Regions from separate parts of the Homo sapiens genome. Here region 1 is linked to region 2. Evidence: fine-mapped expression QTL. A gene starts in region 2. The other region holds a variant in brackets. All regions are shown on one strand. Distances are between the middles of the regions. Region 1 overlaps TNS1 (tensin 1). Region 2 holds the start of TNS1 (tensin 1).

The links. PIP is the estimated chance that this variant, and not a neighbour inherited with it, causes the effect.
Region 1: its variant is fine-mapped to the expression of TNS1 in whole blood (TOPMed, PIP 0.95).

The regions. Positions count from the first base shown.
Region 1 is chr2:217,840,763-217,843,659 of GRCh38, forward strand. All of the region lies in intron 19 of TNS1 (tensin 1), which reads right to left. Among named protein-coding and RNA genes, the nearest start is that of SNORA115, 8.5 kb to the left of the region's middle. The variant T/C (reference allele first, on the strand shown) is at 1,372.
Region 2 is chr2:218,001,707-218,004,603 of GRCh38, forward strand. It overlaps TNS1 (tensin 1), which reads right to left and starts at 1,289. Exons shown (of 33, transcript NM_001387777.1): 1 at 1,134-1,289. The coding sequence starts at 1,166. RefSeq lists enhancers at 1-233, 234-734, 2,475-2,574.

The sequences.
Region 1 (2,897 bases), 160 kb before region 2:
GAGTGCTGGACTGTCCAGAGCCCTCCTGAGCACCCTCATTGCAAAGGCCTGCATCTCCTCAGGGGACCCTGAATGTTAGTCTAGTTATTCCAGGCATTGTTCCCAGCAGGCAAGGCCAAGGCTAGCATGAGGCCCATGTTCATGCAGAAGTGAGCTCTGGCTCATGCAGACAGGAGGGAGAGAGGGCTGGAGAGAGGAGGGATGGAGAAGTAAGTGAGGAGACAGAAGAGAGGATAGTGAGAAATGGGGAAGGAGAAGGAGAAACAGATGGAAACCAGAGAACAACAGAAGAGGGAGAGGAAAAGACAGAGGAGAGAAGGAAGAAGGTGGGAAAGATTTGGAAGGAATAGCACATGAAGAAGGAGTGAAAAGAAACTGATGCTCAAAAGTGGGCCAAAGAGCTGGAAAGGGAGAAGGGGGAAGGAGAGCCACCCACCAGAGAGGGAGGAAGATTGGAGCCGGTGGAGAGGAGGGGGCGGGAAGCTGCCACTGTGTCCGATGCCCTGCAGCCTGGCGTTGTACGCTGCCCACCCCCCACCCCAGGGGAGCCAGCAGGGAGTGGGAGGCAGGAAGGAAGGGAGGATATGGGGCAAGGCAGGCACCCCACCAACAGCACAGGGAACAGATGGACATGGGAAACACAGAGAGTGCAGGGGACGGGGCATTAAACAGGACAAAACACAACAAAAACAAAGAGAAAATCAAGATTAGTTGGTGTTCTGACTCTGGTATCTGGGCACACACTGGAGGGAGGTGGGGAAGGTATCAGACAGGAAGAGAGGGGGATCCAAGGTCCTGCTTCTCCAAGAGGCAGATGGACCTCCTGCTGGCCAGCACCACAGCGTTTCCCTCTCTTCTAACCCCAGGGTGGAAGCAGAGGTGCCATCGTGGGACCAGGAGAATTCACGCATCCCTCACCTGCTCCCATAGGCAGCAGGCCTGTCCCTGGACCACCCATCTTTTCCTGGGCACCTGCCTCTCCCTGGACCCAGGTAACACACCCAGCCTGAGCCCAAGGGTCACCCTCTCTCACACCCTGGCTCCTTACCACAGCCATCTGAGTGATCCTCTTTCCTGGGGAACCCCTTGTGCTTTTCTGCTCTGGCCCCCAGCTTCTGGTCATCACCAGAAAAGTCCTTAAGATGAACCTTCTCAGATGCACTAGAAGGACCTGCTATGTTATCCTTTCCTTGCCCCTTGTTGACTTCTAACCCACCTTCACACCACAGGGGCCACAGGAGTGGCCAACATTGCCCCTGCCCTGGCCCCCAGAGTTCAAGCTATGTTACCTTTCCTCTCCTTCACAAGCTGCTCCATGCCAGTTCCTATGCTGGTTCCCTCCTCCTGTCTGTAGCCTTGGAATGTGGGAGG[T/C]TCCAGGACTCCATCCTTGGGACCTCTCCTTACCTGTCCTCAACCCCTCGGTGACATTGCCCAGTGCTATGCTTAATCTGGTATGTACACGTCAACAATTCCCATATCTCTAAGTTCCAGCCTCTTCTCCTTAAACTCCTGACTCATTTATCCAACCACTGCAGATGTTTCATGGTCATCTCAAACTTAATGTGTCCAAAAGTCATGTTTCTAGTGTTCCCCTGAAACTGCTCTTCATAAATTGTTACCCATCTCAATAAAGAGCAACTCCATTCTTTAGTTGCTCAGGCCCCAGACCTAAGCGTTGTCTCTGACTTTTCTCTTTCTCTCTCATTCCATGTGTAATCTATCAGTAATCTTGTTGGCTCTACCTCCAAAATATGTCTAAAATCCGAGCACTTCTCCCCTTTCCATGGCCACTGCCCAGATCAATAGCAGCAGCCACCTAACTGCTCTCCCTCCTTCCATCCTGCCCACCCTGGTCAATTCAGAACAAGTCAGATGATGTCACTCTTGGGCCCAAATCCTTCCTAAGGCTTCTCATGCCACACGGAGTAAAAGCCACCATTCTTACAATCACCTCAAAGACCCTCTGTAAGCTGTCCCTGTTCCCATTTCCTCTCTGAACTTGTGTCCTGCTATGCCTCCCTTGATCACTCTACTCCAGCCATGCCAGGCACACTCCTGCCTCGGGGCCTCTGCACTTGTTGCTCCATGGGGCTCATCTCTCGCTGCCCAGCCCTGATCATCCCATGTAAAGTGCAGCCAGCCACCCCCTACCTCTCACTGCTTTATCTCAATGGCACGTATCACCTATCTGACATATCCTATGTATATGTGCTTATTTGCTCAGTATCCATCTCTGCTGTAAGGGCAAGGATCTTTATTTGCCACCATTTTCACAAAGCCTAGACTGGCAAGCAGCACCCATTAGAAGTTCATGTTGAATCGAATGATTGAATGAGCCTTCAACTCATCTCCTATTTTCAGAACAAAATGTAAAAAAAAAAAAACACAAGAGTTTTCACTTCAAGCTCCCAAAGCTTGACATCAATATTTCCCTCTATCTTTATCTATCCTTTATTCTAATTTCATGAAGAGGTATCTCACCTCCTGGTTGAGCCTAATTTACCTACATGGGCTCCTAGGCCTGTCCCCTCTTACCTCCTTAGAGACCTTATTCTATCAACTTCTTTCTTTCTCTTCTTTTTCTCATCCTTCCTCCCCCCATGTCCAACCTACTCCCCTCCTCTTCTACATACAAACATTCTCATGACTCTTATATTTACAAAAAAGTTCCCAATCACTCACTATCCTCTTTAGCTACCACTCTCTCCTCTCTTATCACAAAACCACTGAAAAGAGTACTTGGCTTGCTGTCTTCACTCCTTCTCCACTCATCCTCAATCCCCCACAGTCTGGTTTCTGTCACCAACACGCACTAAAAATATGCCTTTGATGTTTTACACAGGGCTGCCTAATTTGCAAGCCCAGTGGATTTTTCTCAGTCCTCCTCATGATCTCTT
Region 2 (2,897 bases):
CCAAACCGCCTCATTCCAGGCCCCCTCCCCCACCCTTTCTTTCTTTGCCCAGAGGACACCTGGCTGCCCGAGTTTGTGTTCCCACAACTGCCCCCAGCATGGGCTTGCCTGGGCCAAGAGGGCCCTCCCGAGGACTGGCCAGAACAAGGAAAGGGACAGGAAAGGCCACATCTGGATCACAGCCCTGAAGCCCCCTCCCCCAAACCAGCCATCACTCTCTCAGAGCCCAACAGTAACCTCAGCCAGGGACGACTTCCTCACCCTCCTGACCCCATGCATGCCTTTGCCTGGCCAAGACAGCCCCACAGGAGCCCCTCTGAGGAAGGGGTCCTCTCCTCCTCTGACCCCCAGCCCTTCTGCAGCAGGCAGCCCTCTCCCATCCCCCTTTACCCAGGAGCCTCAGCCCAGGTCTGGCCTTAAGACTTTTAACCTTCACCACGTGGCCCCCAGGCCTCTCTGCTGGCCCCCCTGGCATCCCCATCCTGAAACCCACCTCCCTGAACCTGGAGCCAAGAGAGAAAGGGGGAAGAGCGGGCCATGGCTCCCTCCTCCAGGATGGAGAGGTCTTGGTAGCAGGGGAGGGCTGTGGAGGAAGGGATGGCAGTGGGTGGAAGCTGAAACTGGGTGTAGAAGGAATAAAAGGGATGGACTCTGAGAATTCTCCCACAGCCCAGCTCTTCCAGACTTAATATTTTGGACTACTATTCTTTGCTCCCCAGCCCCACCACTGCCTCCTCCTCAAGATCTTGGGCTCAGCAACTGAGGGGGGGCGGTGAAGAATTTTCACCCCATTGTAGGATGCAAGTCGGGAGGAAAGGCTCTAAAGAGAAGCAAACTTCTCTGTGGCCTCCTTCCACTTACAGCTCTGGGACTCCATTGGGGGGTGGGGGGGTGGGGCAGGGGATGTACTGACCCGGGACCCTGGGCCTGGGCCCTGTTGGTGGGGAAAGTCTTCCGGCTGAGGGTTGCTCAAGTCAGTCTGTCCTTCTGTAGGTCAGAGACAGAAAGGCCCCTCCTTCAAGACTGACACCCCCCGACCCCGGGCTCTCAGCAAAAGGATAAGGTGGCAGGGGCCGGTGGGGGGCGGGGGGTTTGAGGAAGAGTAACGTCGCAGCTAAAGCAGCCAGACCTACCCAGAGCATGCAGGACAGACAGATCCACGTCATCTTTGCTGGGTCCCGTCACTGAGGCACGCCCAGGGCCTGTGAAGAGCCCCTGAAGCTAGAGTCCCCGCGGCGCTGGCAGAAGGGCTCTCTGAGTCCGCGGCTGCTCCGGCTCCGCCAGCATCTGCTGGGCCTCTCGCCCTGCTGCCTCCAGCTCACCCTCCCTCCTCCTCCTCCTCCCCCCACTCCACCCCTCGTCCCAGCCTCCTCTCTCCTCCCTCCTCCCAGGCTCCACCGGTGGCCTTGAGGGTCAGGAACCCTGCTTTGCAGGGGGTGTAAAGGGGACAGGGAAAAGGGAAAGCTACCAGAGGCAGGGCCCCCCCAGGCCGTGCCCCCCACCCCCGGACACACAACCCCTGTGTGCCACCAAGGCTCCTCAGTCTTCTGATCTGGTGCTGGTAGGCCTGGAGTCCTCCCTCCTCACTGCAGACCCCCGCCCCTGGCAAACCAGCCTGGGGGCCTTCACTCCTGGAACCCTCCAGACCACTGATGGATGAACAGACAGCCCCAGGCCCACACAATCAGCACACTCAGGGTGCCTTGGCCCCTCCCCTTCTCTGAGTACCCGTGCCTGCCTTCCTGGCCTCCTCGGAACACACATGCATTTGCACACACAGACTGGGACAGACTCTGGTGCCCACGCGCCAAGCTCAGAGCCCAGGACAGGCCTTAACACAGAAGAAATAGGGCCCGAGACTGGGGAAGAATGGCCCTGCCCCCAGGCTGTGGGTTTCATTCCAATTTTTTTCCTATTTCTTTTTTTTTCCCCCTTCTTTCTTTCTTTCCTGCAAACATCTGTCCCAGCCTTTCCTGCCCTTCTGAAAGGGAGCCCCGCTCCAGGCTCCCGCGAGAGTGTGTTTTTCTTGACTGTACCCGGGGCCAACATTTGGTTTGCATTTCCCCACTTCCTCCCCCTCCTCCCCTCTCCCCCTCCCTGGGCCCAGTTCTCCCCTCCCACCATTCCACAGGCCTATTTCTTCCCCTCAGTGTCCCCTGCCCACCAGCCCTCCCCTCCCCTCGCCCCCACCTCTGCCCAGGGACAATTGTTGGGGGTCTAGAGGGTGGAAAGGAGGCTGGGTCAAAACCCAAAAGTATTCCCACGGAGCACTAAGGGGGAATCCAGCAAAGTCTGCCCCAGGCCTTCATTGTCTGGAACCACCACGTTCCCCTCCAAAAAAAACCCTTCCTCTTTGAGCTCTGGCCTTGGCTGGACCAACTGAGGGTGGGTGGGGGCCAGTGAATCACCCGCTCTGTTCTTTGGAGCTGTCCAGGAGAAGGAGGGAGGGCTCAGCCCCACACCCTCCTGTGGACACACACACACACAAGGACACAGTCCAACTCACGTCAACACATAAGAGCCCTCCCAGAGTAGGCACTTGGAGACCTCGTTCCTAGACTGAGTCACTTAGCAAGAAAAGTTCTCTTGCCTGGCCTCCTATGCACACTGTGCTATACATGCCCTGGGGCCACATGCACGAAGGGTTACAGATCCCCTGCCTCCCCCCCCCACTCACCCAAGGCCATGCCATGCCGCTGTCTGTCAGCACCACATACCGTGCAACTACCAGCCTCCTCTTTCACAGGGATCTGCCCAGCCACTTGTGCCAACTCCCAGCCCAGGGACCACCCAAGACATCTACCTGGGAAACCCCAGAATGAAGGGGAAACACTGACTCTTCATCTGAAAAAAAGACTGCAGTATTCAGATACACAGGTTGTCCACAGCACAAGGGA